Homo sapiens: one gene and its partners. The protein of the gene in region 1 purifies or fractionates together with the protein of each later gene. This does not show direct contact. Each region holds a gene or a part of one and is shown in the gene's direction. Other genes may lie near its edges.

Region 1 (3,111 bases):
GTTCTTGTCTTGTTCCCTGGGTTGTGGGATGGGCTCCAGCTGCCCATGATCCTAAACTTGAATAAGCAGGTTGGAAAATGATAGAATGAATGAATATAAAATATTGTAAAAGAAAAATTCATAAAGTTTATGATAACCATACAAATGCAGTCAGCAAACCAGCCACATTCGTGATTATTTTTTAACTGTGTGGTGGTAGGAGGTGCTCCTTACAGTTTTCCCTTTGCAAACATTTATTCCTTGGTTTAACCCACCACTCTTAAAATTGCCATCACTCACTGATTCACCAAAAATTGGGTAAATATCTTACCTTGTTTTTATTAATCTTTCTTAAGTGTATGTATAGCTCACATGTATTTTGATGTTGAATATTAGAAGTGACTGGGTTTTTTGGCCAGGTGCCGTGGCTCACACCTGTAATCCCAGTGCTTTGGGAGGCCGAGGCAGGCAGATCACTTGAGATCAGGAGTGTGAGACCAGCCTGGCCACATGGTGAAACCCCCTCTCTACTAAAAATGCAAAAAAAAAATTAGCCAGGTGTGGTGGCGGGTGTCTGTAATCCCAGCTACTCCAGAATCTCTTGAGCCTGGGACAGAGAAGTTGCAGTTAGTCGAGATCTCGCCACTGCACTCCAGCCTGGGCAACAGAGCGAGACTCCCTCTTAAAGAAAAGAATCTTTGGATCTTTATTTAGAAGTTTGGTGATCTTTTTTTGTGACCAAAAATGCTGCAGGAACCTAATTCTTGTTTATATCAGTTAGCCTGTGGCAAAATTAGTTTTGCTATATGTTGTTTCACTTAAAGTGAAACTTTAAAATAGGTTCTGTTTCTAAGAACCTATCGATGACAGTGACAACTTTGAGGACTTAACTGTTTTTAATTTTAGAAAATGTATGTTGCACCTACATCCAAGTCCTTTGTTATACAGCATAGTGCATTCAGTAGACATTTTATAACTACTTAAATTGTATCTTTGCCTCTTGAGAACATCTGCTTCAGTACATCTTCCTAAATATTTTTAGAGTGGCCAGAATAGCAGTGTGCGAGTTGGTGATGTATTCTTTTTAGGAAGTTGAGTCTTGTTCAGTGTGAACATGTGTTTGTTTGCCTGCTCTGCCTATGTTTCTAACTGGGCTTCCTTTGTTTCATGCTTACGTTTCTACTTTTTTCTTCCTAGCTACTACCCACAGATGGCATGATCCGAAAACACTCTCATGTCAAGATAGGGCGTTACCATCAGGTACAGGCCTGGGGTTGGGATCCGGGGAATTGCCCAGGGTATAGGGAGGGGCTGTATCTGGCTGAGTTCCAGCCAGCCGCCCCCACCCCCTGGCAGGAATTCCAGCCTAGGTGGCTCCTACCTGCTTCTTGAACCCAGAACAGGTGCCTGGGATAGAAATAGGAAGTTACCTAGTAGGGTTTATTTTGAAGCGGGATGCCAGTCACACCCGGGTGGCTTCCATTTTTCCTGTAGCATTTACAAGAGCAGCTGGACTTAGATCTCTCACCTTTGGAGTACATGATGAAGTGCTACCCAGAGATCAAGGAGAAGGAAGAAATGAGGAAGATCATTGGGCGATACGGTCTCACTGGGAAACAACAGGTCAGTAAAGGAGGGTGTGGTGAGGATGCCAGATAGCTGGCAGACTGTGGCTGGGTGGGTCAGGGGATACTGTCCTGGCAGCCTGGGTTTGGAAGCTGTCCAAACCAGAGTCTCCTCCATTTGACTCCCCTAAGAACCTACTACCTTTTCTTTACTCTAGGTTGTTATGTAATGGAGCATTTTGAGGGGGCAAGGATAGCGTGCCAGTCTCTGACATGCCCTTGTGCCATAGTGCTTGAGGGCAAAGGAACTTGTAATCTAGAAAACAAATTTCTGGATTCAGATCTGGAAGGATCCAATTCATTGCCAAGAGAGCGAGAGGTGTGGGCTTAGTAATGGCAAGGGCTTCAGGTTTCCGGATGAGTCTCTTTCAGGCCTCAAGAGACTAGTGGGTCTCTCTGAGCCTCACTTTTTATAAATGGCGATGCTAATGGAGGAGTCAGGGAGAAATGAGGGAGAGATGAGCTGTGCTGTTTGGCGGGGATAATGCCAAGTTATATGTAGGTCACGGTTCTACTCAGGTGAGCCCAATCCGGAACTTGTCAGACGGGCAGAAGTGCCGAGTGTGTCTGGCCTGGCTGGCCTGGCAGAACCCCCACATGCTCTTCCTGGATGAACCCACCAATCACCTGGATATCGAGACCATCGACGCCCTGGCAGATGCCATCAATGAGTTTGAGGGTGGTATGATGCTGGTCAGCCATGACTTCAGACTCATTCAGCAGGTGAGGCCCTGGCCAGGGGGTGAGGCACAGCAGAGCTTCTAGGGGGTTGGGTAGGGTAGTCATGGCATGTGGAGGGTGCATAATACCCGCCTACTGAATTAAGAGAAGGGGCTCAGAGTGTAGACACAGGTGGTGAGGACCAGTTCTTATGCCTCTTTGGGGCTACTTAGAAAGCCTTAACTGAAACACTTCATTTCTTCAGTAGCTATCTGGAGATGTCAACCAACTTAGCATTTTGGGCCCAAATGGGAAAGAGAGTTGGGTAGAAAACGGTGCTTTTACTACTGTCCCAAGATTCTTCAGTCCAAAAATAGTATTCTAAGGAGGATTTTGATTAGACAGCTACCACAGTCATTTGAGAAAAAGTTGTTGCTCATTCCTCTGAAGCTCTGGGGAAGATGAGAGGTGGAGAAAAGAAGGCTGAGAGTGAAGCCTCTGAATAGATCTAGGCCCTGCCAGGGAGCTGACAATAGGAGTGACACAGCAGTTCCTGGCTTGGAAGGCTCCAAACCTGATGATGGTACCCTTGGGTTAGAACATCCCAAATAACTTAGAAGTAGTGAGACAGTGAGTTGGATATGGGTTTGGGGGGCGGAGTTTTCTTCCTAGACGCCCCTCAGGACAGTCTGCTGGGCAGAGGCAGGGACAGTGACTAGCCCAGGATTAAGTCCAGGTTTTGCTTTCTAGGTTGCACAGGAAATTTGGGTCTGTGAGAAGCAGACAATCACCAAGTGGCCTGGAGACATCCTGGCTTACAAGGAGCACCTCAAGTCCAAGCTGGTGG
Region 2 (3,500 bases), on another chromosome or scaffold:
AAAAGCATTAATGAAAAAATGATGTCCTCTTCATTTTTCAACTCATGCAGTGCTGTGGCATTTGGTGCATGTTCAGAAGCCATGCCCTATCTGAGGGTGGTATTGGGTGTCTGGTTCCTTTCTTCCCCCAAATTTTTCAAAGTCAAATCTTTATCAGACTCTCCATATAATTTTAATTTTTAAAAGTCCTGCACTGAAGCGTGGAGGTTCTAGGCAGAATTGGAAAGTATAACTGCCCTCTGGTGACCTGGGTGAGACTTAGGGCTAACTTCCTACTGGGTACAGATTCTCAAATTATTACTTAAGCTTCTGGATTGGATGGGAGGGACTCTTCACATGTCTGTTGACTACAAGCTTTTTTTGTTTTGTTTTGTTTTTTTCTTTTAAGCAGTTTGCCATGTGCCTCTGCAGCATATCTTCCTTGGGAGCTGAACATTCTACCCACTGGGGTTCCTGATCTCTAGTGAGCCAGGGGATTAATAAAGAAGATCTTCCTTAACATGGGAGATGGGAAGCCAGGTCTACTAGGGGAACCACATCCATTCAGAAAATCTTGGAAAACCTGATCCTTGTAGTTTGTGGCCAGAGTTCTAGTCTGGGGTCTTTTTCTATGAGTCAGGGTGGTATATCATTTTGCATCTTTATTGGAAGGCAGATAAGCTTTTGAGGAGCTCATGTATCAGGTTTGCAAAATGACTGAGGGGTAGGGGCTTACTACTTGGAAGAAAGCTATGACCTTGTGATGAATCACCTGAGAGACATAATTCAGTCCACTATTGTGTCAAACTAGGAAGTGCCTAAAACACTGAAGAAAGGAAGGGGAACATAAGGGGTTAGGTACAAATCATTTTCATTTCCAGAAGTGCCTCTAAATTAAGGTAAATTTGGGACTTTTTTCTCCTTTTGTTAGAAGACAGTTATTTTTTAAAGAGCTCTGACTTGCACAGAATTTTTATCCTGAACCAATTCAGTCCTGTTTCATTGGTGATGGGTGTGGAATAACTTTAGCTATGCTGGATATTTTTTCACCCTATTTAATTGAATAACCCTCAAGTAAAATTCATTTTGAAGGCAGGAGTTGGTGTCACAGACGTTTATCTCTGGTAAAAATGGTAGAAAATTCCCCAATGCCTTGTGCCAGTAGAGTATGGCTCTGCCTGAAACATTCTCCATAAGGAACGCATAGCTTAGGATGAGGTGGAGGTAGGCCAGGGGGTTGCTACCTCACTCCCCACCTTCTGTATGTTCTGCAGTCAAGAAAATAGCAGCTCATTAAAAGAAGACATAATCATGCCGTGGATTACTTGTGGTTCCAGAAAGCTTTCTTAAGCTTTCATTCTAGACTCCAGATCTTGAGTAGGTAATGTTACAACACTTAGTCACGGCCCCTGCCTGCCTTCATCAACTCAGTTTGCCTTCTCTGCTGTAGCCCTGTGCCCGAAATGTTGGACTTTACATTCCTTTCCACTTGAGCGCCTTGGAAATTGTTTGGTTTTTTTCCAAAATATACTGACTTCAAAGCAAGGAAACTAGGTTATAAGACACTTGGGGTCCTTAATTTTAAATAAGAACTAATCTTCCTGAAGGAAGGCCATCATGAGAAAACCCACTTACATTTTATCAAGATTGGTGCTCATGAGACAAAATTTCACTTATATTTCCAAAATATAAGTAGTGGAAAATGAATATTTAACGCTAATTTTGCTTTGTCTCTTAGCTTCCCTTTGACTATTAATGTCTTTTATTCTTGTTTATACATGTGGGAATAAAAAAGTCCCTGGATCCCATTTCCAGCAGAGGGCACTGGACAGAATTTAGCTTTGTACTCATTGGTCCATTTTTCTAAGACTGGCTCTTCTTTCTTGTCTCCCATCCTCTTAAGGAACACTTGAGCTCAGATGACAGTTTATTTAGTGTCTGAAGGAAATAGGGGTAGTAGGTCTATTTATTGGCTTAGCTTGTAGTTGGATATGCAAAAAGGAATTCTCCAGGGTTATATATATTCAACTCTGGGTTTGAATCAGTCAAGGGTAACTGGTTTGAAATGATGTTTAATTCAAGGCCTTTTGTCAAATTGCATATATTTTGCTTTAGGAATCTAATGGTAGGTATGTGTGTATATATAGAGAGAGGGAGTTTTAAAAATTTCTTAGTCTCTTGATTGCTTATGATATGTTGTTATTGGAACCCATACATTGCTTTTCCAGTCTCCAACAGATGTGATATCTGTTTTATGTGTCCCTTTATCGTATCTCTTTATAGTTTCTATAGATCACTTTATAGTATCTCACTACATGGGAAGAATACCTTTATTTCTGTGTCTGTCTCTGTGTGTGTAGGAATCACCACACTTGAGTGGATTTGGCCCACGGACATCTAATCTTTTCCAGTATTCTCCTTGAATGTTTTTTCTCTGACCTCAGGTTCCACTTGTATTTGTGGAGGTTCCAGGGCAGCAGCGACTTCTCAACATTTCTTGCCTCATCTCTCCCTCTGTTCAGCCCACAGGTTATGATCTCCAGAGCCAAGATTATACTCCTACCCTTCCTGGCTGCCTCCTCCCTGCTTCTGCTGCTGCTCGCCTAGGTTGTTAGGACCTACACATTTGGAAACTTACTGACGTTTTTGTTGGGAGGACAAAAAGGCTGAGATTGTTATGCTATGTTTTTTCTTTTGTTTGAGAACAAGTAGAACTAATTTGCATTGTCTTACAAGAAACCTGTGTTTTTTCCGGCACAAAACTACTCATCTTTGTAAAATACTGATTTTTCTACCCTTCTGCTGGGATTGTGTCTGTTACTTCTGTGCTAGATGTAGGATGAGGAAGGTTTTGTTCTTGCCTCTTCCTTGCTACTCAGTGTGGGCCTTATTGCCCAAAGGCAGATATTGCTGAAGTGGCTTTCTTTTTTGGTGGTTTTTTGTTTGTTTGTTTTTGAGGCAGCGTCTTACTCTGTCTCTCAGGCTGGAGTGCAGTGGCACAATCACAGCTCATTGTAGCCTCAGTATCCCTGGGCTCAAGCAGTCCTCCCGTTTTCCCACGTCAGCCTCCCGGGTAGCTGGGACTACAGGTGCACACCATCACACTCGACTTATGTTTTGTAGAGATGAGGTTTCGCCATGTTGCCAAGGCTGGTTTCAAACTCCTGCGCTCAAGGAATCTGCCCACCTTGGCCTCCCAAAGTGCTGGGATTACAGGCATGAGCCACTGCACCCAGCCTCTTTTTTGGGTCTTAGAAGCAAGTATTTAGAGGCAGTGTAGATAAAAATCCCAATCAGAACCATATTGATCCTAAATTACCTTTCTGGAACTTCAGTTCTGGCTTGTCCCTTCCATAAAAGGAGCTTAGCTTTTAACTAATTCCCTTCCCAACCTGGTCTAAAACAGCTGCTTAAAAGGGAATTTTTCTAGCATTTGGCTTTATCTGTTCCCTTTTTAGGTTCCATGGTTTTCAGTTTTAGGCTTTCCTAGGGGATCTTGTACAGCGTGATTTTTGAGGAGA
Region 3 (3,500 bases), on another chromosome or scaffold:
ACCTCCACCTCCTGGGTTCAAGCAATTCTCTTGCCTCGGTTTCCCAAGTATATGGGACTACAGGCACGCACCAGCACGCCCAGCTAATTTTTGTATATTTTAGTAGAGATGGGGTTTCACTATATGTTAGCCAGGCTGGACTTGACCTCCTGACCTCAAGTGATCCGCCCGCCTTGGCCTCCCAAAGTGCTGAGATTACAGGCATGAGCCACTGCGTCCGGCCAAAATTGAGAACTATATGGCAGTTAGTTTAAGAAAGAAACTTAATAAACAGGGAAAAGTATTAGCCATTTATGACAAAGACATGATATTCCTAAAATCCATATTTTTGTTTTGTTGTTTATTTTGAGACAGAGTCTTGCTCTGTTGCCCAGGCTGGAGTGCAGTGGTGCGATCTCGACTCACAGCAGCCTCGATCTCCCAGCTCAAGCCATCCTCCCACCTTAACCTCCTGAGTTGCTGGGACTACAGGTGTGGGTCACCACGCCTGGCTAATTTTGTATTTTTTGTAGAGACGGAGTTTTGCCGCATTACCCAGGCTGATCTCCAACTCCTGGGCTTGAGCAATCTGCCCACCCCAGCCTCCGAAAATGCTGGGATTAACAGGTGTGATCCACTGCGCCCAGCTTCATGATTTTTAAAAAATGTCCCAGATTAGGTTGGCAGAGATGGGAAATTGCTGACACCTAGTGTTGGCAAAGATTGAGGAAAATAAGCTATCATGCTTTTTTTTCCCCCCACTCAGGTGATCTGCCTTCCTCGGCCTCCCAATGTGCTGGGATTACAGGCGTGTGCCACTGCGCCTGGCCCATATTAACTCTTATATAGCCATAGTCCTTCATGCTCCCCTCTTTGGGAAATTTTGTACCTCATTTGTACTAGGTAACTGCTTCAGAATTTTAAGAGGTACTCTGGTACGGTTACTACCCTATTTTTTAAAGGTAGATCTTGTGTAAATTCAGTGGGTGCCAAATAAACTATACTATATATAGTTCAAATTCCTTTACAATGAAATTTCTATAGAATTTTTTTTATGATTGACATATTTCCCAATAGTATTTGGTAAATTCTTACTTACATTTGGAAAGCATTTTCTTGATTTTGGGGTTTATTTTTCCCTAATTTATTTTTCTAGGTTCAAAAGCTGTCTAAGAATGAAGTGCTCATGGTGAACATAGGATCCCTGTCAACAGGAGGGAGAGTTAGTGCTGTCAAGGCCGATTTGGGTAAAATTGTTTTGACCAATCCAGTGTGCACAGAGGTAGGAGAAAAAATTGCCCTTAGCCGAAGAGTTGAAAAACACTGGCGGTAAGTTTGTTAGTCTTTGCCACTGTCTAATTAAAAAAAGACACAGTCTTGTACAGAAAAAAAAGCACACAATCTTCCTTGAGGACAACAGTTACTGTGGCTTTCAGTCTCAACTATTTATTTGGATGACTTTGAAAACTATACTTCGGCCGGGTGCGGTGGCTCACGCCTGTAATCCCAGCACTTTGGGAGGCCTAGGCGGGTGGATCATGAGGTCAGGAGATCAAGACCATCCTGGCTAACATGGTGAAACCCCGTCTCTACTAAAAAATACAAAAAATTAGCCGGGCGTGGTGGCGGGCGCCTGTAGTCCCAGCTACTCGGGAGGCTGAGGCAGGAGAATGGCGTGAACCTGGGAGTCGGAGCTTGCAGTGAGCCGAGATGGCGCCACTGCACTCCAGCCTGGGCGACAGAGCGAGACTCCGTCTCAGAAAAAACTACAACCTTGACTATAGTCCCATATTTTAGTCCAAATACTGTGATTGGCTTCTCTTCCTGTTAGACACAACCTATGCAAAACCAAATGAATTTGGGTTCGGTATTTCTATCGTCATTGGCTTTGGAAATCATTTCACACTTAATAGAAAAATTGTAAGAGTTTTACAGAAAACTCCTCTATAGCTTTTTCCTAGATTGACAAACACACATACAGATTTATTTACATATATAAGTTTTTTTCTGAACCATTTGAGTGTAGGCTATATATGTTATGCTTCTTGATCTCTTAATACTTCAGTGTATATTTCCCATCAAAAAAGGATATTCTTATGTAACCACTTAGAAATTTAACATTGGCAAAATACTGAAATCTACAGTGCATGTTTCAGTTTTATTACTTGTCCCAATAATGTACTTTATGTTCCTCCTGTTTAGAATCTTGAATTGCATTTAATTTCATGTCTCTTTGATCTTTAATCTGGAGCTTTTTCAGCCTTTGTCTTAATTGACATTAACAGTTCTGAAGAATACAAACTAGTTACTTTATAGAATATTCCTCAATTTGGGTTTTTCTTATCATTCGGAAGCCTAACATTAGATTCAGTTATATATTCTTAACTTAAATACACCGTGAAGTCTCCTTTTCAGGAATCACAGCTAGAGGCACATGATATCTGACTGCTCCTCTTTGTTAAGGTTAGTTTTGACTATGTAGTCAAGATGTTGTCCAGCTTCTCTGCTGTGTAGTTACTCTCTACCCTTGCAACTAATAAGCAATCTGTAGGGAGATCTTTCTAGCCAGTACAAATAGCCTGCTGATCATTGAATCCCACACCCCTGGATGTAGCATCCACTGATGATTCTTGCCTGAATCGAACTTGACTATAATGATTACAAAATCATAGCACCTCTACGGGTTGCAGTATCCTCCCTCAACTCTACCACCCCACATTTATCATTTGGCATTCTTTCTTTGCCATTATTTATTTCCCTATCTAGTTATAATATGGACTCATGGAGTCCTATTTTATTCAACATGTTATGATCCATCACTGTCTTCCTTTATTTTGATGTGCATTGTTCGACGTTTGGCCAGTGGAGGTCCTTCAGGCTGGCTCTTGTGTCCTTTTGACATGTACTCATCATTTTTTTTTCTTCTTCTTTTTTTTTTTTTTTTTTTTTGAGATGGAGTCTTGCTTTGTCGCCGGGGTAGAATGCAGTGGCATGATCTCAGCTCACTGCAACCTCTGCCTCCCAGGTTCAAGCAATTCTCCTGCCTCAGCCTCCCGAGTAGCTGGGACTACAGGCACACGCCACCACACCCGGCTAATTTTTGTATTTTCAGTAGAGACGGGGTTTCACCACGTTGGCCAGCCTGGTCTTTAACCCCCGACCTCAGGTGATCCGCCCTCCTTGGCCTCCCAAAGTGCTGGGATTACAGGCATGAGCCACCACGCCTGACCTCTTTCTTCTTTTTTTTGGAACATTTCCTTATTTTCTGGCACAAAATCTTCCAGACTCATCTTGTACCTTCTCTGTTCCAGTTTTAGAACTGGCCATTTCTCTTATAAATGAAAAGCTGAGTGTTCAGGTGTGCTCATGGCTCTTAGGGTGCTGTTGCTTCTAGGTCTTTTGAGAGCATAGAGCCAGGAAGCATACACACATTTTTGGCTCCTGACTTTTTGCTCTTTCCCAGGTTATTGAGTTTGCCCCTTGCTTTCCATTCCTCGTCACCTCATCACAGTCCATACCAC
Region 4 (3,500 bases), on another chromosome or scaffold:
TAACTCATTTATTTGCTTTATCTTAGGGTAGTATGTGTTTAATTAAAATTTAAAATCTATGTAAACATCTATGCCAGAGATTTTGCCTGTAAATAGTAAGAAATTAAAAAAATCAAAAATCTTTAACGTGTAAGAAAAAAAGTTCTAAGTAAGAAAGAGATAAACAACTTTAGCAAGTTAACTACTTATAAACTGTTTAATGTGCTTACCTCAACTAATGTATTTTCCATTGCAGTTCTCCAACTTTAATGATTTGTTGTATTGTTTTCCCTGTGGAGTGAATATTGATGTATTTTCATACCTGAGTAATTCTTGGTTTGTATTTTCACCTTTTAGTAAAGGAGACTGTAATAGTAAACTTGATCTTGTAATCTGAAGGAAAATATACATCCATTTCCTAGGGATATGAGTCAGTTTCTTTCAACTGTGATAGCTTAGACAGTGGCTATGTTTATGGGATTATGTATCTTTAAACATGAAGAATTTATCCCTAGGATATCTACACCTTTCCTCAATAAAATACTGGGTTCATCATGAATTGAATCTTTTAAGTTCTTTAATCTGGTTACATTTTTAGCTTATATTGCCTCTTGGTTTTTTTTTGTTTTTTTTTTTGTTTTTTTTTTTTTTTTTTTTTCAGTAAATATCCTGAAGATTGCATTTCTGGGAATTATTCCAGGTTCTTGTTTCAGATTAGTAACCCTTTTCTTGTTTTGTTTTTGCTCAAGTAGAGGGAGGGAACAGAATTCCAAAAGTATTCCCTGTGCAGATAGAAGTTAAAAGGGCTTTTATTAGGTTACAGGATCTGGTTCTTACATTCCAGCAGACTCTCTTGAACCAGTATATTCAGGGAGCCATTTGTAGTGACTGACGAATAAAGGCAAGGATCTCTTAAAATAGCATTCAAAGTAAAGTTTATATAATTTTCACCTATACCTGTACATCCTAAACTGTGGTACCCATACCCTGGGATTGTACAGTAGTGTGCCAGATAGTATGTGAACCTAAAGATTAAGTGAAATGTACCTTCTTTGATACACAAATTTACTGGAAAATAGAGTGGAACATTGTTTTAATCATGGAGGAACTGTAAAGTGAAAAGCAGAATTCAAACATAGAAATTTTGAATGTAACCAAAGATTTCAGAGAATTTTTTTATCTTGGAGCAAGTGACCACTGGTGATGCCACCCCCCACTCCACAGGGTTATACGTTTTTTTTTTCTCCTTTATTAGAGATTATTTTGTGGAAATGTGTGAGAAGTACTCTTATTTCACTGAGGTGTGTCTTTTATTTTTGGCATTTTTTGAGTGGCCCATCAAACTTTCCAGATAATTGGCTCTTCGTTCCCTGAAAGAGCTAAGTATAAGCACTTCACTTGGAATATTCACTCCTGTCTGTTGATCAAATTACAGAAACATGAATGCTAATCCTTAGGATCTTTTTTTTTTAACTTTATTATCCTTTTCTGTAAAGTAATTCAAAAGTGAATGAAACTTTTAATAGTATTTTTATTAGAAGTTACAGAAAATTTTTGACAGTCTAAATTAAATTACATTTACAAGTTGCCTCTCATTTATTTTATTTCTCAAGGAATGTTTATAGATTAGTATCTAAGTCTGTGGTTTATTTTAACATATAAATCTTTGATGTGATAGACTTACTTTAAGTGATAAATATATGGTTACATAAAACATTTTAAACTATTTTATAAAAAATATTTATAACTTTCACTTTTGTAGAAGAATACCTGCAGTTGACTTTTGATAAATCAGTATTTAAAATTTCTGCAATTTTGCATCCAAGTACCTACTTGAATAAAATACTTCTGGGCAGTGAACAAGGAAGCCTGCAGTTGTGGAATGTAAAATCCAAGTAAGTATTTTAGTTAGAAAATAATATAGCTGTCACCTTATCCTCATCTACTACTTCCTAATGTATACTTAAGTCTCATTTCTCCCTGCCCTTGTATATTTATTTGGAGGGTTGTCTATAAATAACAGTTGGTCCCCTGTATCAGAGGAGTCAATTAACCTGGGATCAAAAATATTCAAGGAAAAATAAATAAATAATAATACAACAATAAAACATCACATTTTAAAGTAGTACAGTATAACAGCTATTTACATAGTATTTACATTATATTAGGTCTTATAAGTAAGCTAGAGATTATTTAAAGTATATGCATAAATGTGTGAAAGTTATATGCAAATACCACACCATTTTATGTAAGGGACTTGAGCATCTGTGAATTTTGGTATCAGCAGAGAAGTTGGGGAAGTCCTGGAACCAATCCCCCACAGGTAGTGAGATATAACTATATGTTTGCTTTTGGAGTTGTTGCTGGTGGCATCACATATGTGAAAGGTGGCATGTGATCCTGACACATGTTAGACAGCTTCATAAATGCTCACTGAAAAGTATGTACTAATGACCTAATAACTGTAAAGAATTGCTATAGAGAAGGCTCTAATAAAGGTCTATGAGATCCATCAGAAAATAATAATAATGAGATTATTACTAGGGAGCTTCTGATTTTCCATACATGAAGATTTTCTATACATGAAGAAGGTAAAAGATGGAAAGGCAAATCAATAATTTAGTGCTAGCATTTAGAAATGATTTTTAGGGTTAAAAGTACTTCCATAATCTCCCATAGATATGGCAAATATCTAATATTGATGTAGCTAGAGGGCTGGATACATGATTTTGAATACTTCTATCCATTATGTAAACATTTATCAGTAGAAAAAGGTGGCAGCTCACACTTCTTTGTATAGCATTTTAAAAAGCAAACAAAAATATTTGACCATCCAAATTGTTTTTTTCCAAAGTCCTTTTAAATTCAAAAGGGAAAATAAGATTATTAAAGGTTTGATGTTTTAAATCAGTGTTTCATTACAATTTAACAAATACCATTGACTGCCTACTTTGTGCTAGGTTCAGCAATAGTGACTGAAATACTGTCTTTGCCCATTTACAGAATTTAATACATGATTTAATATTTTAATGATAATTATAATGATTTCAGATACCTCTGTTTGCTCCATGGATGTGTTATTTATCATTCATGACTTGCTTCTGAAATTGAGAGCAGCATTACTGTTGTCATATAACAGTCATATAACATGCAAATAATATTTTTATTAAAATATAAGTTATTCCCTTTCATGATGTTTCTATAAAGATACTGCAGTCCTAAATTTTTTTTACTGTAGCCTGTAATATAACATGATTTTTACACACGTATTTTTTTTTCCACTTAGGACATTTAATTTCTTAATGAGGTGGCATAGCATAGTAGTTAGTTTGAGACCTAGAATTTGTCTGGACAATATTACTAACCTTGTGACATTAGCTTAATCATCAGAATAGTGTGTGGAAGAGTAAGAACTTAATAAATATCACCTATTATTATTTCACTTTTTAATGTGTAGCTGATATTGTTTTCCTCCAAAAAAAAAAAAATACAGCTTTCAACTATTTTTCTTCTTGTAGTAA
Region 5 (3,500 bases), on another chromosome or scaffold:
TTTGAACAAGGTGGATCTGGCCCCGCCAGCTCTTGTGGTTGCCTGGAAGCATTATTTCCATCAACACTATCCCCAGCTCCACGTCGTCCTTTTCACCTCTTTTCCTCGGGACCCCCGCACCCCACAGGACCCTAGTAGTGGTGAGTGGGCAATGAGAGAGGGCAACTTGGGAGAGGTGAGTTGGCAGGGGACAAAGGGGAGAACAGAGAGGCTTATTGACAAGGGGGCACCTGGTCTTGGGCCTAAGGGTGGTGGGAGAGATGAGAGGCCTAAGCCCGTGTGCCCATCCTTTTGTGCCCTCTGATCTCAGTCTTGAAGAAGAGTCGGAGGCGGGGGAGAGGATGGACTCGGGCCCTGGGGCCAGAGCAGTTGCTGAGAGCCTGTGAAGCCATCACTGTGGGGAAAGGTATGTGGCCCTTAGAGGAGGGCTGTAGGAGGACATGGGGGAGACCAAAGATGCAGAATCATTTTGCTCACCTTTCCTGAAGCCAACCCCTCTATGGTGGATATGTGCAAGAGGCCAGGGGAAGGGACAGAATAAGGAGCAGACTGACTTGGTGGGACGAGAGGCAGCAGGTAGTCAGGAGCCTCAGTGGCTTGCTGCCTTTAGCCTTCCCAGTACTTTTCAGAAGCTCAGAGAAACGTGCGTGATTCCAGGGAGGGTAGGGTCAAATGACTTTTGGGAGATTCTCTGACCTGCTCTTATTTAGGTTGGCACTGTACAACTCCAGAGGGTGCCAGTTACATAATCTGTGCAGGGCACAGTATGTGCCATCATGCACAGCAGCCCTGGGGAGAACCTCTTTAATCTTCTCCTTCTTTGAGCAGTGGACTTGAGCAGCTGGCGGGAGAAGATTGCTCGGGATGTGGCTGGGGCCACCTGGGGTAATGGCTCTGGGGAGGAGGAGGAAGAGGAGGATGGCCCAGCAGTCCTGGTGGAGCAGCAGACTGATTCAGCAATGGAGCCAACTGGCCCAACCCAAGAGCGCTACAAGGATGGGGTGGTGACCATCGGCTGTGTGGGTAAGGAAGTGGCAGCTTGTGCGTGGTGGCCTCCAAGGAGGTACAGAGTTTTCATATTCGGAGAAGAGAGAGGGCGATCAGGTCTCATTAGGCCCCAGGGTGTCTGAGGGGTGATCTCTGCCAGTGGCGGTGGGCAAGGCAGAAGAGGCGTCTGCTGCAGTGGAAGGATCATGACAGCCTGAGTTAAATTCCACCTCTTCTCAGCTGTGAGGTCTTGAGTAAGTGATTTTGCTACTCTGAGTCTTAGTTACTTTGATTTTAAAAATAAGGACATTGATACCTGAGTAAAAGAATGGATGACGGCCATGTGTGAGGGCTCATGCCTATATAGTCCCAGCGCTTTGGGAGGCTGAGGTGGGAGGATTGCTTGAGACCAGGAGCTCAAGACTAGTCTGGGCAACATAGTGAAACCCCATCTTTACAAAAGATAAAGAAAACTAGCCAAGTGTGGTGGTATGTGCCTGTAGTCTCTGCTACTTCAGAGGCTGAGGCAGGAGGATCACTTGAGCCCAAGAGTTCAAGGCTGCAGTGAGCTATGATTGTGCCACTGCACTCCAGCCTGGCTGATAGAGACCCTGTCTTTAAAAAAAAAGAATGGATGTGAGGAATGATGGGAATAGTGTTAAGAGAGTGTAAGAATGCCTGACAAATAGTGATAACAATAATAACAATTATTATTGTTAAAACTCAGTATTTATATGGTGCTTACTATGTAACAGGCACTGTTTTAAGTGGTTTATATAAACCATTTGAATTGTAGTAATTAGTCTGTAGTACAGTGATTATCAAATCATAGTAGGAGCTCAGCAAGAATTAGTATTCTTCTAGGTTTTAACCCTTTAAGTTTGTTGCCAAGGAGAATCTCCTCTTAAGGGCTTTGTCTCAGCTCACAGTGGAGGAAAAAGGAATGTATGATTAGGACCCAGGGCCCGTCTTCATTTAGGGTGGGAGAGGTAAGAAGAGACCTTGGACAAGTTATGGTATCTGAGGTGATATTGGAACCAAAAAGGGCCCAACCCAGAATAAATTTGGGAGTGTGGAGTAGGTAGTTGGGTTCCTTGGAAGTGCCCTGACTTATCTCTGTGTCCTTTTTGTCTTTGGAAGAACCTGCCTTACTGCTGAGTGATTGCTCCTCTTTCCAGTCATTTCACCCGGCTGTCCCTTCCCTGACTTCTGATCCTAGTCTCCCTGTCACAAGGAGCCTCTGTTCCCTCTCTTAGCAGCCTCTGCTCTAGCTGATCTCTATTCCAGGTGGTGTGAGAGGGAGAGTGTTTGCTGTGGCACAGGCACCCCTGAGTTTGGATTTCCCTCCAGCTCTCATTCATTTACCCATTCAACAAATATGTACTGAACACTTAACCAGGTGCCAGATATTCTAGGGATGGGACATACTGCTGTGGAAATGGCAAAAAGGTCTGTAGATTCATGGAGCTTATTTTCTTGTGAGTAAATAGATTTTGTGATCCGAAATCATGTAGGGGCAGTGAAGGCAATAAAGCAATGAAAGGGGATAGAGAGTGACTGAGAGGAGAGGTGCTCAGGGAAAACCTCCCTGAGGAGAGAACTGGATGATGAGATGAAGTGAGCCATTCAGAACTGTGGGGAAAGGGTCTTGAGGAGGGAACGGGCTTGGAGATTCTAGGACCAGCAAGAGTGCCCAGGGGATTGGAGTATGGGAGCCAGGATAAAGTACTGGGGATGAGGTCAGCAAGATCACCAGGGCCCACATCATGTAGAGCCCTGAGGCTGTGACAGCCATTTTGGATTTTATTCCAAGTCTCATGAGAAGCCAAGGGTAGGTTTTGAACAGGGGAATGATAGGATCTGATTTTGTTTCTTATAAGTTTACCTCCTGAGTAGAGAATAAATGATGGGGGGTGGGCAAGAAAGGGAGCAGAGAGAGCAGTTGAGGCTATTTCAGTAATCTAGGAGAGAAATAAGAGTTGCTTAGAGTAGGATGCTGGAGCTGGAGGTGGTGAGACAGGGCCGGAAGCATGATATATTTTGAAGGTAGAGAAAATGAGATCGCTGATGGCTTGCAGTTGGCACGTGAAGGAAAGTGAGGATAAAGAAGGACTTCCAGGTTTTTGTCTTGAGCAACTGGAAATACTGAGATGGGAAGACTGGGGGAGAAGCAGATTTGAAGGCTTTGGGGAGGAGAGGGGAATCAGAAATGAAATTTCAGATTCTTTTTAAATATCCCTAGTGGAGATGTTGAATAGGCAGTGGGTAAGTAGTCAGCAGCTTAGGGGAGAGAAGAGGACGGAAATTTGAATTTGGGAAAGATTTAAATTTGGGGAACCATTGATGGATATAAGTGGTATTTAAAGCCACAGGATTAGGCTGGGCACAGTGGCTCATGCCTATAATCCCAGCCCTTTGGGAGGCTGAGGCAGGTGGATCACTTGAGGCCAGGAGTTTGAGACCAGCCTGGCCAACATGGTGAAACCCTGTCTCTACCAAAAAATACAGAAAAT
Region 6 (3,500 bases), about 22 Mb from region 1:
AGTGTGACATTTTGATTTGTTGAGCCTTTGTTGATTCTTAGATTGTCTATGTAAATAACCACTTTGACCTTGACTCCTTACTGTTTTTCTTATAGCATATGAAGGAACTGAGAATACTAGTATTGAAATAGCTGCCTTTGGCTGTGGAACTGGTGACTGTTGCATTTGTTTTTTAACTTTCATGTATAAACATTTATTTTAAGTCACATTTCCATAGATGGTTTTCCTTACTTCATTCACATATCATCAGTTTTCTTAGTTTTGTTACTCTGCTCAGCCACACAAGGGGAATAAACTTTTTACAAGAGCCAGAATTCCCAAGTGCAGTAGTTAATAAGAAGGAACATATGGTGTGCAGGTTACTCAATCACATCTTATCTTTGGCACCTGCCTCCGTCCTGTAACTTGCGATGCTCTGGGGGCCAGATCATGTTATGTGGCTATGATATATTTAATTATAGTGTCCTTTTTCATAAGTTGACATCAAGTGAACCCAGCAAGCCAAAAATCTCTATAAGAAGTAATTTGGGAAATGGGAAGGTAAGTTCCACAGGGAATGAGGTAGTACTAGCTGAAAGGGATTTCTTCCTTGTGTTCTTGAAAATGAGTGATAGGAGTGTTGGCGCACAGCAGGGAAAACAAGGCAGGAGAGGATTTATTTCAGAAATATTAAAACTTTCTGACAATAAGGCTGCAAGCCCAAGAACCTCAACTAGATTGTGCTTACATCAGTATCAGTAATGACCGTGTTCAAACAGACCCTTTATTGCTTTTGGCAAACATATCCACCTTCCACTGGCTTTGTTGCTGTCAGGAGAGAATGAGTTGAGCCATGTTAGCACTTCTTGTCCTGAATTGTTTAAGCTCTTGATTTGGTTAATTATAGAGTACTAAAATGGAATGTTTTGGATAAAGACATGGGAATGTGGTAGCAGTATGACTCCTTTTGCCTGTTACAAGAGTACTGCTCTGAAAAGTGTTCAGTAAGGCAATTGGCAGTTGGTCTGTAATAATAGTTACCAATAATTAGCCTTTTTTTTTTTTTTTTTTTTTTTGAGACAGAGTTTTACTCTTGGTGCCCAGGCTGGAGTGCAATGGTGCAATCTCAGCTCACCGCAACCTCCGCCTCCCGGGTTCAAGCGATTCCCCTGCCTCAGCTTCCTGAGTAGCTGGGATTACAGGCATGCACCACCATGCCCGGCTAATTTTCTATTTTCAGTAGAGATGAAGTTTCTCCATGTTGGTCAGGCTGCTTTCAAACTCCCGACCTCAGGTGACCTGCCTGCCTCGGCCTCCCAAAGTGCTGGGATTACAGATGTGAGCCATTAGCCTTTTATGTGCCAGGAGTTGTCATAGGGGTTCTGTAATCCTCACAACCATACTATGAGATGTAGGTGGCATTATTTCCATTTTATAGATGCAGAAATGAGATCCTGGGAGGTTAAGTGCCTTGCCCAAGGTTATACATCTAGAAAGTGTCAGAGGTAGAACTTAAATCCAGGGCTGTCCGTCTCCAAAGCCCATGTCCTTTTCATTATGCCACAGTGATTCTAACTTCTTAGATGCTGAGTTCTTGCTTTCTCCCAGAGGTCTTTTAGAATACTAAGTGAACTCTAAGGCGTGTCTGTCTGGCTAAGGCTTAGGTCATCCCAAGACCAAAGTAAGGCAGGTCTGAGTTAGAGCTTTAGGAAGAGGATGGGAGAAAATTGTACAAATGTAGAACTTGAAAGAATTGTAAATTTAGAAGAGGAGAATAAAAGCATCTTATACAGAAAAGCATTTCAAGATCAATGATGCAGCTTCACACTGGTAATTTACTGATAATCTGAGAAATTTATCCATATTTTAAAAGTTATAAATAAATTTGGAGTACCTGAGGAATATACCCTTTCTTCCTGTTCAGCTAACACTTTTTCCCTATTCTTTAAGCCTCACCATCTCTATGAGTCAATCTTTGATAAGAGCTTTTGAAAATTGCAAAGGGAAGAATATTCCTACTGTATACCAGGCATTGTACTTAGAGCTTTACATATACTGTTTTATTTAATTCTTTTTTTTTTTTTTTTTTTTTTTGAGACCAAGTCTCGCTCTGTCACCCAAGCTGGAGTGCAGTGGCGATCTCGGCTCACTGAAACCTCCGCCTCCTGGGTTCAAGCGATTCTCCTGTCTTGCCCTCCTGAGTAGCTGGGACTACAGGTGTGTGCCACCACACCCGGCTGATTTTTTTAATTTTTAGTAGAGACTGGGTTTCACCAAGTTAGCCAGGGTGGTCTCGATCTTCTGACCTCGTGATCCACCCGCCTCAGCCTCCCAAAGTGCTGGGATTACAGGCATGAGCCACCGCGCCCGGCTATTTAATTCTTTTAAGAGGCCTCGAAGATAGCTAGTGTTCTCCTTGTTTTATTGAAGAAACTGAGTGTCGAAGAGATTAAGGAATTTGTCTCAAGGTTACACGGTAATGTGATGGAACTAACAGAGCCCTAAACTGTTGCTTTTCAATTCAAATAGTACTCTGTTCGAAACTCAGGATGAACCTTCTAAATCTTTTTTTTTTTTTTTTTGAGATGGAGTCTTGCTTTGTTGCCCAGGCTGGAGTGCAGTGGTGCGGTCTTGGCTCACTGCAACTTCTGCCTCCCGGGTTCAAGTGATTCTTCTGCCTCAGCCTCCCGAGTAGCTGGGACTACAGGTGCACGCCACCACGCCTGGCTAATTTTTGTATTTTTAGTAGAGACGAGGTTTCACCATATTGTCTAGGCTGGTCGTGAACTTCTGACCTCGTGATCCACCTGCCTCAGCCTCCCAAAGTGCTGGGATTACAGGCGTCAGCCACCACGCCTGGCCCTAAATCTTAATCTGTGTTTTTTGGGTAGTTTTTTTGTTATTGCACTGACAGTTTCTTTTTATTTATTGCGTGGTTGAAGGTCTTACCGTGTGTTTTTGTGAGCATTTATTTTCTGAGAAAGCAGCCTGAGGTGGGCAGATCATGAGGTCAAGAGATCAAGACCATCCTGGCCAATGTGGTGAAACCCTGTCTCCACTAAAAATACAAAAAATTAGCTGGGCATGGTGGTGCACTCCTACAGTTCCAGCTACTCAGGAGGCTGAGGCAGGAGAATCACTTGAATGCTTGAATGCGGGAAGTGGAGGTTGCAGTGAGCCGAGATCATGCCACCGCGCTTCAGCCTGGCGACAGAATGAGACTCTGTCTCAAAAAAAAGAAAAAAAAAAGCTGCTTTAGGAGCTGAAGTTGCAGTTGTGTGTTTGATGTCTTGAGGAAGACAATTACTACTACTACTACTACTAGTACTACCTACATTCTCAGTATCCAGTTAATTGAAGAAATCGATAGTTCATTAAAAAGGGAGAGTGAGTTTATTATATCATTTCCTTGGAAGTGATTCCCTCCCCCACGAGAGAAAAAAAGTTTGTTGTAATCTTTATTCAGACCCTTTGTCAAGTTTATAAAGAATATGCAGTTTGTTTCATGGTGGTTTTTGTTT

What was found.
Region 2: the proteins of ABCF2 (region 1) and PPP1R10 fractionate together in Homo sapiens (co-fractionation; one large-scale study listed by BioGRID). This does not show direct contact.
Region 3: the proteins of ABCF2 (region 1) and EIF2S3 fractionate together in Homo sapiens (co-fractionation; one large-scale study listed by BioGRID). This does not show direct contact.
Region 4: the proteins of ABCF2 (region 1) and WDR36 fractionate together in Homo sapiens (co-fractionation; one large-scale study listed by BioGRID). This does not show direct contact.
Region 5: the proteins of ABCF2 (region 1) and GNL1 purify together in Homo sapiens (affinity purification with mass spectrometry, with the first as the bait; 2 studies listed by BioGRID). This does not show direct contact.
Region 6: the proteins of ABCF2 (region 1) and AHCYL2 purify together in Homo sapiens (affinity purification with mass spectrometry, with the first as the bait; 2 studies listed by BioGRID). This does not show direct contact.

Annotation. Positions count from the first base shown.
Region 1 is NC_000007.14:151,214,095-151,217,205, reverse strand, and holds part of ABCF2 (ATP-binding cassette sub-family F member 2), read left to right. Parts: intron 1-1,176; coding exon 1,177-1,239; intron 1,240-1,473; coding exon 1,474-1,602; intron 1,603-2,123; coding exon 2,124-2,327; intron 2,328-3,014; coding exon 3,015-3,111. Other genes in the region: ABCF2-H2BK1 (ABCF2-H2B protein), read left to right, coding at 1,177-1,239, 1,474-1,602, 2,124-2,327, 3,015-3,111.
Region 2 is NC_000006.12:30,610,744-30,614,243, reverse strand, and holds part of PPP1R10 (serine/threonine-protein phosphatase 1 regulatory subunit 10), read left to right. Parts: intron 1-3,500.
Region 3 is NC_000023.11:24,071,956-24,075,455, forward strand, and holds part of EIF2S3 (eukaryotic translation initiation factor 2 subunit 3), read left to right. Parts: intron 1-1,135; coding exon 1,136-1,308; intron 1,309-3,500. UniProt on the Homo sapiens protein: Member of the eIF2 complex that functions in the early steps of protein synthesis by forming a ternary complex with GTP and initiator tRNA.
Region 4 is NC_000005.10:111,098,848-111,102,347, forward strand, and holds part of WDR36 (WD repeat-containing protein 36), read left to right. Parts: intron 1-1,741; coding exon 1,742-1,874; intron 1,875-3,497; coding exon 3,498-3,500. UniProt on the Homo sapiens protein: Part of the small subunit (SSU) processome, first precursor of the small eukaryotic ribosomal subunit.
Region 5 is NC_000006.12:30,549,990-30,553,489, reverse strand, and holds part of GNL1 (guanine nucleotide-binding protein-like 1), read left to right. Parts: coding exon 1-140; intron 141-310; coding exon 311-406; intron 407-828; coding exon 829-1,023; intron 1,024-3,500. UniProt on the Homo sapiens protein: Possible regulatory or functional link with the histocompatibility cluster.
Region 6 is NC_000007.14:129,228,030-129,231,529, forward strand, and holds part of AHCYL2 (adenosylhomocysteinase 3), read left to right. Parts: intron 1-3,500. UniProt on the Homo sapiens protein: May regulate the electrogenic sodium/bicarbonate cotransporter SLC4A4 activity and Mg(2+)-sensitivity. On the contrary of its homolog AHCYL1, does not regulate ITPR1 sensitivity to inositol 1,4,5-trisphosphate.